Linked DNA regions of Homo sapiens: region 2 is linked to region 1. Evidence: fine-mapped expression QTL. A gene starts in region 1. The other region holds a variant in brackets. All regions are shown on one strand. Distances are between the middles of the regions.

Evidence for each region. PIP is the estimated chance that this variant, and not a neighbour inherited with it, causes the effect. A credible set is the group of variants that fine-mapping cannot tell apart.
Region 2: its variant is the best candidate, but not a certain one, in a credible set for the expression of PCGF1 in T cells (TOPMed, PIP 0.88).

Annotation. Positions count from the first base shown.
Region 1 is chr2:74,504,577-74,509,958 of GRCh38, forward strand. PCGF1 (polycomb group ring finger 1) reads right to left here and starts at 3,119. Exons shown (of 9, transcript NM_032673.3): 1 at 3,000-3,119; 2 at 2,466-2,571; 3 at 2,156-2,308; 4 at 1,605-1,676; 5 at 1,376-1,481; 6 at 1,161-1,194; 7 at 976-1,062; 8 at 763-843; 9 at 467-614. The coding sequence starts at 3,092. The coding sequence ends at 567. LBX2-AS1 (LBX2 antisense RNA 1) reads left to right here. Exons shown (of 2, transcript NR_152616.1): 2 at 1-489. RefSeq lists enhancers at 2,382-3,312, 2,949-3,128, 3,869-3,928.
Region 2 is chr2:75,181,037-75,186,418 of GRCh38, forward strand. All of the region lies in intron 1 of TACR1 (tachykinin receptor 1), which reads right to left. All of the region lies in intron 2 of TACR1-AS1 (TACR1 antisense RNA 1), which reads left to right. Among named protein-coding and RNA genes, the nearest start is that of TACR1, 16 kb to the right of the region's middle. The variant C/T (reference allele first, on the strand shown) is at 2,683.

The DNA of each region.
Region 1 (5,382 bases):
AAGCCTCCATTTCTGACAATTCCTGTGGCCCCACTCCATTTGTTTTTTAGACTTCTCCCTCCTTTTTGTCCCCATCCCCCAAGTTATAAAACTATAATGCAATTCTTTGGATTTTTCTTTAAAAAATCACACTTGTTCAATCCTGCAGCAGCCACTGTCCAACTCTAGCCTTCTCACCACCGCTGAATTAGGAAACCTCCTAAGAGGCCCGCACCCGCACTGTATGCTGCAGCATACAAAGACAGCTGAGAGCTCCCCTCCAGGAAACCTTCCCATCACCAAAAAGAGTGGTGTGGGAGGCCTGGTTTCACACATATAGGGATCCTCTACCCTTCTCCTTTGGCAAGACATTGAGGGCCCATGGCCATAGAGGACAGGCCCTTCTTCACAATGAAACTCAGAGGATTTTTGAAGAAGGCAGGACACAGCATGAGTGTGAGGCAGGAAGAATAAGGCAGAAGAGAGGTGCTTTTTAAAAGTTTTTATTTCAAAAAATAAAGCTGCAGTTCATTTCACATAAATATCTGGGGAGGGAAGGGGAGTGGGATGGGGTGGGGGCTTGGCCCCTACCTCCTCTTCTCTTTCACACTGTATTGTAAAAGCAAAGGGGATGGCTAAGGAGAGAATGAGGAAGTAGTAGTCAGTGGGGAATGTTCTTATATTATTCAAAGGGCCCCTCAGCCCACCCTTCCCCTGAGGACTGTAGGATGGTTGGGGGGAGTCTGAAGGGGGTGTGATCCCAGGGAGGGTGGCCTGGCTTACCTTGCCGAACCAGCGGGAGAGCCATATCTGCTTCATTGTCATGTGATCAGGGAGAACTTCATTGTCAAAAAGGAGCTGCACCTAGGAGGGAGATGGGGGCATAATTTTAGGAACTTTCTGGCAGGTCAAAAACTACCCTGGTCCACCCTAGACTCTGTCCCTCCTTTCTTAGCCCCTTCTCCCCCTCAAGAAACCTACTGTGGGACTACTCACATGCTGAGGGTTTAGCATCAAGCGGTGACACAGGACCCTCCGGAGATGGCGTACCTCAGCTCTAACAGAACATCGGACATACTTGTTCTGGGAGCAGGGAGGGGAGGGAAGAGGGCAAGGTGTGTGAGGGAAGGACCATGGGAGGTGAGTCTCCTTAGAGAGGCCCTCCCCTCAGCCCTTCTCACCTGCAGGACGCTTTTATTCTTGTCTTTGCCAGAACTGGGGGGAAATAGACACAGGTTAGGGAATCCTATCTTTCCTCCTCTTCCCCACCCAGAGCCATGATATACTCTCTTCAAGGGGATAGGCACTCACTCACTGCTCAGCCTCTCCCCTAGACCCTCCCTGGCTCTGGGTCATTGGCACTGTCACCTCCTGCAACCCCTGACCTTCTCCTCACCTCAGCCGCTCCAGGCACAGGTTCAACTGCTCATCATAGCGATAGTAGTGGGCTTTAGAGTGGTCAAAGCTGCTGAAGGGGAGGCCGAGGTTGCTCAGTGCTGGCTCTGAGAAAGATAGGGTAGTGAGGTGGCTGGTGGCACACATTCCATACTCCTCTTTCCCCAGAGAGCAAAACTGGGCAAGAAGAATGCTCTGGGGTCTTTACTGTCCCGCGGCCAAGGACATACCTTCCCCAGTGGGCTGGGTGACCCGGTCCAAACCTCGGGACTGGTAGAATTCCCGAATCCGTTTCTCTTCACCTAGAAGAAGGTGAAGTATGAGAATAAAGTATTAGCCCTTCGGGGCCGGGCGCGGTGGCTCACGCCTGTAATCCCAGCACTTTGGGAGGCAGAGGTGGGCAGATCATGAAGTCAGGAGATTGAGGCCATCCTGGCTAACATGGTGAAACCCCGTCTCTACTAAAAAATATAAAAAATTAGCTGGGCATGGTGGTGGGCGCCTGTAGTCCCAGCTACTCAGGAGGCTGAGGCAGGAGAATGGCATGAATCCAGGAGGTGGAGCTTGCAGTGAGCTGAGATTGCGCCACTGCACTCCAGCCTGGGCAAGACTCCGTCTCAAAAAAAGAAAAAAAAGAATAAAGTATTAGCCCTTCCTCACTTTTTGTCCTTCCCTCATCTTTGGCCTTCTGCCTACGTGAGTCCTACCAAACCCGTCACCTCAAGCTGCCACTCAGCAATTAGTCCTCAAGAGGCCCCTCAAAGTCAGGTTGGTGACTCACTGTCTTGCAAGCCAGGCACCAGCTTATACACGATGTCCTGCATGACCCGGTCCAGTTTGAGGTTGAGCAGTGGCTGTGTCTCGTGGATCTTAATGTTGCACATGGGGCAGTACTTGCTAGTTTGGAGGTACTTCACAATACAACTCTTGCAGACTGCAGGAAAAGAAAAGCAGATTCTCAGGCCCTCTGGAAACTGGATTCATGGGCTGGGTGGGGTGCCTGGATGCGTGAGGCAGGCCGCACAGAAGCTGGCAGTCAGCTTGGTGAAGACTAGGGACTGGAAGAACTAGGCAGTCTCCAAGGCACTCACAAGTATGAAGACACTCTGTGATGGTGGTGGCATCCACGAAGTAGCCGGCGCATAGGCAGCAAACAATGTGTTCATTCAAGTCTTTGATCTTCACTCGAACCTCCTCCTGAAGATACACCCTCCGTCACCAATCATCCACCCTCAAACCCCAACCCGTGCGCCTTCCCACCTTGGGGGTCGCCTCCTTCATCACACTAGACGGCCAAGCCCCGCGCCCTGCGCCATCAGCCGGGGATTAGCTCCTGGGGGCTGGCACTCCCCCTCCGCCCAGCAGAGGGCTCCGCGCACAGCGGGGGCTTCCCTCACGTGGACTCGCCTGACCCTCCTTTCCCAGGGGAGACTACACAACGTCGGCGACACAACGCGCAGGCGTCCTAACCGGAGTTTGGCAACCCGATCGCAACCACGCAGGCGCACTGGGCACTCTGTCTCTGCGCAGGCGCACTGGGCGCCCGGCCAGCCACCGCCCGTCCTTTAGCCCGCCCCAATTCGCACCGCTGGCCGACCACAGCAGTAACCCTGCCGCCCTTGCACCTCGTTCCGTAGCGGGTCCATCTTGTACACTGACTGGAGCTGGTTCCGAAGCCTCATCGCGATCGCAATCTGGCCCCCCTGAGGAGACGCCATCTTAAAGGCTGATCCCAGCCGGCCACTTCCGGTGCCGCCTGCAGGGCGGGACTTGTCTCCCAGCAACGAGGTTCTAGGTCTTTTCGGATTCGCTCACCCTCTGTAAGGCCCCGCCCACGTCCCTTTCTCCCTGTGTGCTCACCTGAGCCCCACCGGCCCCTCCCCTGCTCAATCCGTAATTAAGGAGTGGGGGGGGGGGAGCACAGGGAAGGGTCTTATCTCTTCAACCTCCTGTAGAAATCATCATAATAGGCCCTACGCGACCTCAAGACTAACTTTCGGAGCCTGCGAAAGACTGCCCCCTCCTACCCCCAAAGGCCTGGCAGTCTGTGCCCGCTACCCGCTCAGGGTCGTCGGTCTTCTGTGACGACGACCCTGCTGAAGAAGCCCCTCCTGGGTCCTCTCCTCGTAATGCCGCCCTGTCGGCGTCCGCGTAGCGGAGCTTCGTCCAGATGGCGGGTCTTCTCCCGGCTTCACGGAGGGAGTTTCTTGGGCTTTGCAGAGTCTCGGAGAGGGTGCCGGGGGATGGGGAGTGAGAGACCCCCAGGGACTTGGTAGTGATCTTATTCCCCCATTCTCCCCCCTGCTGCCGGGGATGGGGGGGGCAGGCCCTGGTTAATGATGATGATTTAATCATCGGCGCCTGCGGAGGCCTGGGACAGACTAATGCAGAGCAGATGCCGAAGGAGGAGGGGAGGACGACTAGGACACTGCCACACACAGACAGGCTTAGGCAGCGAGCGCCTGTAGTAGCATAGGCCCAGTCCCGCACTTGGGGACTACGCGGGGTGCTCGCTCGAGAGCTCTACACCGCCGGCTCTGGGTACTTAAAAAGGGATAAATTTGCTATGAGGTATTAACATCAAATGCAACTGGAGATACGAGAAGGGAGAGATTCCAATGGAGACCTCAAAAAAGGCTTTCTGGAGAAAGTGGGACTTTGGGCACAATTTAGACTTGGGGGAGGGGGTGGAAGTGTGGTGAAATAGAAAGGACGTGGAGGGGAATGACCAGAGGACAGGAAGGTCAAGATGTAGATTTGAGAGTGGTAATAGAAAAAGCAGGGCCATAAAGAGTTGCGATTTTTAGCCTGAGGGCAATTGGGAGCTAGCGGACTTTTTTGAAGGGAGGTTATCCTGTGAAAGCGACATTTTTGTTCATTTCTCTTCAGAGTGAATTGAAGTGAATATGCAGCAAGAAGTTATGAGATTAGTGATTAATCAATTATTCGTTACAGCCCCTGTTTACCTACTTCCCTGGTCCGAGCCACTATCATCTGTCCTCTGTAGTGGCCTCTTGACTGTTTTCCTTGAGTCCCCCTTCGCCTGTTCTCAACATCACAGTTGAGTGCTGTTTCTCAGAGCTAGTGATTCTGATAAAACATGAAACACAAAGGACAAAGGACAATTTTTGAGATGTGGATATGTTTATTATTTTTATGGTGATGATGGTATCATGGGTATATACATATGTCAAAACTTATCAAATTGTACACTTCAAATATTTGCAGTTTATATGTCCATTATACTTCAAGAAAGCTATTAAAAATAAAGTTGAAAAATTAGGTTGTTCCTTTTTTACGTTTAAAACCTGTTGAGAGCTTCCCTTTTCAATCAGAATGAAAGTCAAAGTCTCAGAGTGGTGTGCAAGGGCCTGCATAGTCTCTTCAGATACACCAGGATATCCTTCCACTGTGTCCCCAACTTGAAATGCTTAGGTATCCAAAATGGCTCCCTCCTTCTTTCAGGTCTTTACTCATGAGGCTGCTGTAATCACTCTAGATGAATAACAACTCACCCACCCTTTCACTTCCTTGCTCTTTTTTTTCTGGTTAGCACTTATTAGCATTCTATCATTTATTATTATTTAATATACATTTCTAATATATATTATATTTTCTAGTTATTTTCAGAAAATATTTTCTAGAAAACATATTTCCTAGTTTTTCATCTGCCTTTTCCACTAGACTATAAGCTTCTCAGTGGCAAGGATTTTTTTTCCTCTGTTGTGTTCACAGATATAGCTCCAGTGCCAGGTGCATAGTTGGTGTTCAATAAAACTTTTCTGGATGAATACATGAATGAATCCAAGTGGTGGTGATGACAGCCTCGATTAGGGTTTTAGCAATGGCAATGGAAAGGAAGGGCTGTATCTGAAACAGTTCAAAGGAAAGTATAATAGGAGGAAGTAGCCAGGAACCTGGCTTGGTAGGCCTGGGTAAGAGGGTGAATGAAGAGCTTTGGAGGGAAGCATGTCCTCCAGCCTGCTGGACTTAAGGTGGCTGCAGGGA
Region 2 (5,382 bases), 680 kb after region 1:
TTCTCATTTCTAACTCTTTACTCTCTTGCAAACATCTAATGGCCTACTAAATCTTCCAATTCCACCCTCAAATCTCTGGAATCTTGTTTCCCCAGTCCTATGTTTTGAATAATATTTTGCCTCCATATCATAATAACTTCCTATTTGGAATCATTACCAATTGTTTCTTCCCCACTCTTCAACATTCTCCCACTCCTCTTAATTTTATTAGCCTCAAAAACAAATATGAATTTAAAAATTGAGGGATCATTTTGAAAAGCTTCTTTCCAAAATTTCCTTTAAAAACATCTAGAAAATAATTTAAAAAGAAAAAAAAGGAAATATAATCTGAGCAGGTTCATTAAGGGGAAAAAAAAATGACAAAGAAAACATACTCCAGACCACGGGTTCTTAACTGTCTGATGTTAAAATTAATTTATCTTTCCCCATATAAAATGAGATATTAGAATTATTTTTAAAAACCATAGTGGATTTAACATTATCCCTATGGTCATGTCACTCATTCATTTGCTCTTCTGAGTATGAAATAAACGATGAATTCATAGTGTCAAATTCCAATAATGCTCAGACTATCTAGTTGAACTCCAGCCTGCAGTGAGTTTGTTACTGAGGCCCCATTAATAGTTGGGGTGGTAATGAATTACCATAGTGCTTATAAGTTGTGATTTTATGTTTCTTCCCTTTTTGTTTTAGTTTTATTCATGGATAAATTTTTAATGTAAGAGATGGAAAGTATAAATAAAAAGTATTTGATCCTCCAAGGAGTCATGCTTCCTCCTGCCCAGGGTTTTCATAAATGCAGTTAACTTGTTTACAATTCTTTCCTCCCAACCTGACCTCACTCCTCTTAATTAGCTAAGACTATATTTGGTTACAAATAACAGAACGTCTGTTTATCAAGCGCTCAAAGAACTAGCGGTTTCATTGCTTTTCTTAACAAGAAGCCCAGAGCTAGTCAGTTTAGAGCTGGTCTGTGGATCAGTGATGTACTCAAGGGAATTCCAGGTACTTTCTAACTTTCTGATCCACAACCCTTAGCTTAGGCTAAGGATTAGACAGGGCTTGTTCTCATAGATGAAACCTGGTGTTCTTCTCCAGGCCTCTCGCCTGTGTTTCAGACAGCAAGAAAGGGGAAAGCTAAGAGTGAAAAAGCATTTCTCCTTGTGGCTGTTGCCTTTTTATTCAGGAAGAGACGCTCAACCTAGGGACTTCTCCTGTACCCCCATTGCCCCAAAATTTCTCTCATGGCCTGTGCTCCCTGCAAGGAAGGCTGGGATGTGGACAGCATCACTAGTAGGGGACTGCAAAGGGCAGGCAACTGTAAATGGCTTGTATGTGGTCAATCTATAGTATCTGCCACAATACCCACCCCTGACACTCTCACCCTGAACTCCCGCTCTTCCTTTAGATCTCAGCCCTGAGCCATACTGACAGTGTGAATTTTCATATACAGCCATGCGCCACAAAACAATGTTTCAGTCAATAACAGACTAAGTATATGATGGTGCTTCCATGAGTTTATAATGGAGCTGAAAGATTGTTATTGCCTAGTGATGTCGTAGCACAACACATTACCTTTTCTATGGGTTGGTATGTTTGGATAGACAAAAACTTACCATTGTGTTCCAAATTGCCTACAGTATTTAGTACAATTACATGCTGTACAGGTTTGTAGTCAAGGAGTAACAGGGTATTCTATATATAGCCCAAGTGTATCGTAGGCTATACCATCTAGATTTGTGTAAGTTCTTACACATTGTTCATGATGTTTGCACAATGACAAAATCACCCAATGACGCATTTCTCAGAATGTATCCCCATTGTTAAGCGATGTATTTCTGTACTCTCATAGCATTAATGTTCTTTACTAGCTCTTAAGACAGTTTAAAATTATACAATGATGTGAATAATCATTGGATTAATGTCTTATTAATACTTATTTCTCCCAATTGACTGTAAGCTCCTGAAGGGCAGAAATCATGTTTGATTCTTGCCATTGTATCCCTGAATCTCAGGTATATATGATGTAGGAGCTCTATAAATATTTAGATCTACATTTACAAGCATGAGTGTGTTCAATGTCAGTAGAAGATAACAATAAAGCAAAGTCATGATAAAAAGAAAATGTGCCAAACTTGACTTGTATTAAAAATAACGTTAGAAGCCAATAACTTACATGCAATAAGAATACATTAGAGGCACAAAGTAAGATTTATTTCTATTTCTTCTTCAATAGTATCTACTTGCTTTTCTTACTGTATAGTTTATGGGAAGGGAGGGCCTCGAAAAAATGAAACTTAGTGTTTTAAAAGAAAAGTTTAATTTTTAAAAATTGCAGCGTTTATCTATGTTTTTTCTCTAAAAAGGTTAATTATTGAGATCCTTAAATCAACAGCTATATTAATCACAGTCTTGTCAAATGTCTTACAAAATGCACAGCCAAGTGAAAAAGTCTGCATTGCTATACTGTGCTTATCTGTTACGTTTCCCTGGGTTTTGTCAACATCTGTGCCCATGAGGATGTGTCTCCTGGGGAAACCGTGTACTACGGCAGGAAAAAGATGGAGTACCGAAGTTCTGCTCACTGAGAACCGCTGCAGTAGTCCCTCCCCTGCTCTGTCCGAAGCTGGCTTTTGCCTTGATCACCCCAGGAAGGAGTACACGGCTGGGTTTCTTTCTCTG[C/T]GTTTATATCATTTTCTGGTAGAGCCCTTAAGCTGAGGGAGTAAAATCCTCAAACTACTGTGAAGACTCCATTCCCATTAGTTTTCTGTGTCAATAACGTATTGTGTTATTACTTTTATTCTTTTGCTTCACCTGAAAGGCTCAGCAAAAGTCCTGTGCTACTGCATGATGAGTAAACAGAGAAAAATAAGGAATTTATATTATTTAGGAAACTGGTTGGAAGAAAAGCTTCTCACTGAAGTTCGCTTATTTCAGCCAACAGAATTTTAGAAAACAGTTATTTCACTTATTCATGGCCCTAAACCTAAACTTGAAAAGACAGCATTAAAAAATTAAAGCTTATGTAAGTTGTATTTTATAGCAAGGATGCAAAAACGTAAATGAAATGTTAGTAAGTAAATCTAATAGTGTGCTAAAAGGACAAAGCACAAGAACAGGTATTGTTTATTCTAGGAGTTCTAGAACAGTTGAAGATTAGGAAAGTAGGCAATATGAAAAAATGTATTAATAGATGGCAAAAACACAATTGGCAAATTAAGTATCTAGATTTGATTAAATCTCTTAGTAAACTAGAAATTAAATGATGTAATTTTAAAATGTCTGTCTTAAGCCAATGGGCAACATATTTAACAATTATATTAAGAGAAACATTACCATCACAGGTTAAAAAAAAAGGTGCTTATGATCATGAGTTTTAATTAACTTGTTCTAAAAGATCTAATAAAAAAAGTAAAGGACACAGACACTAGATGTAAGATTAAAGCTGATGATGATTTATAGACTATGCCATTATCTGAGGAAAACCTGAGAAAAAAAACCAGAAAAATCATTAGAACTTCAACTGAATTACAGGACTTATTAAGATAGCTGGTTTCAAAATAACTATTAAAAAATAAATAGCCTTCTAGTACACCAATAATAATCCATTAGAAAAAAAACCAAGGGGAAATATTGTATTTTCATTAGCAACCAAAAAAGTTAAATTTATATATATAATTTATATACAACATATGTGGTAATATGATATATATTAGGTTCTATATTATGTATTATGCAATATATAATAAAACTTTTTAAAAAATGTGTGGGATCTATAGAAGAAAAATGTAAAAAACTGTAAAGAAATCATATTAAAAGCTCGACTACATAGACTATGCATCATGTTCATACACTGAAAAAAAACTTGATATGCTAATAATTCTTTCCAAAGCTAATTTCTAAATTTAATGCATCTATTGTATTTCCAGTAAAAATTTCAACAGGACTTATCCATAAGGGTGTTTTAGATTATGAATCCAGAATTTATCAGGAAGCATATATGCATGTTGATACGATTAAAGAAATAGTCAACAAAGTAGATAGATCAGAGAAAGCCTAAATATAAATAAAATTCATTGTAGGACAAAAGTAATATTTCTAATCTGTAGGGAAATGATCAATCAATAAATGGTGTTTGAACAATAGGATAAACTTATATGGCATTTAAAAAAGAGGTAATCTAATTATATTAAATTATTGGAGTGGAATATTAAACAACAACTAAATTATAAAAGTACAGTAAATGAAATTATTTATGCATATTTGCCTACTTTTGAGTTGAGGAAGGTCTTTTTATGCATAATAACAAAGAGAAAGCACAAAAGAAAAGGCAGATAGATATAACAACATAAAATAATATAAAATAATCACTGAAAAAGAAATGAACATTTTAACCTGAAATATAAAAAATTTTTATATCACATGACCATCAAAAGGTTATAGCCTTTAATATAGCCTCAACCTACAGTTTCTGCAATTCAATATGGAATTTAAAAATTAAGATTTAAATTTAAAGCTCTATTAATTCACAAATACAAAGGAATAACAAATATATTAAAATATACTCACTAGTAAGAAGTGCAAACATAACTAACATTTTAATCTTTTAAATTGGAAAAGATTTTTGTAAAATTGTTAGGAATATGGATAAAGGAACACTCCAATATGTTGGATCTATATATTCTGTTTCACACTGCAAATTACTAAAGCTTTCTGAAGAGTGGCTTAACAGAATGAAGCAAAAGGCTTAAGATGGCTAACACTCTGAACAAACAACTTTTCTTCTAAGAATTTATCCTAATAATCATCCATGTGCGCTAGTTTTGCTAAAACACATTGATGACAAATTATATGTTGTAGCAAAATCTCAAAACACCCCCCAGGGTTTAAGCATGAGGGATTATTTAAATTACGATACTTTGTAACCACTTGGCATGATCTTATAGAATAAAGTTTATTACATAAAATATATCTTTATTATGTAAAAGAAAAATAAAATTGTATATGCTATAGGACTATAATTATGAAGATTCTATGCATAGAAAGAAAGTCTTGGGCCAGGCACTGTGGCTCACGCCTGTAATCCCAGCACTTTGGGAGGCTGAGGCGGGCGGATCACGAGGTCAAGAGATCAACATCATCCTGGCTAACATGGTGAAACTCCGTCTCTACTAAAAATACAAAAATTAGCTGGGTTTGGTGGCTCGCGCCTGTAATCCCAGCTACTCGGGAGGCTGAGGCAGGAGAAATGCTTGAACCTGGGAGGCGGAAGTTGCAGTGAGCTGAGATCGTGCCATTTTACTCCACCCTGGGCAACACAGCAAGACTCTGTCTCAAAAAAAAAAAAAAAAAAAAAGAAAGAAAGTCTTGGCATGAAATAAT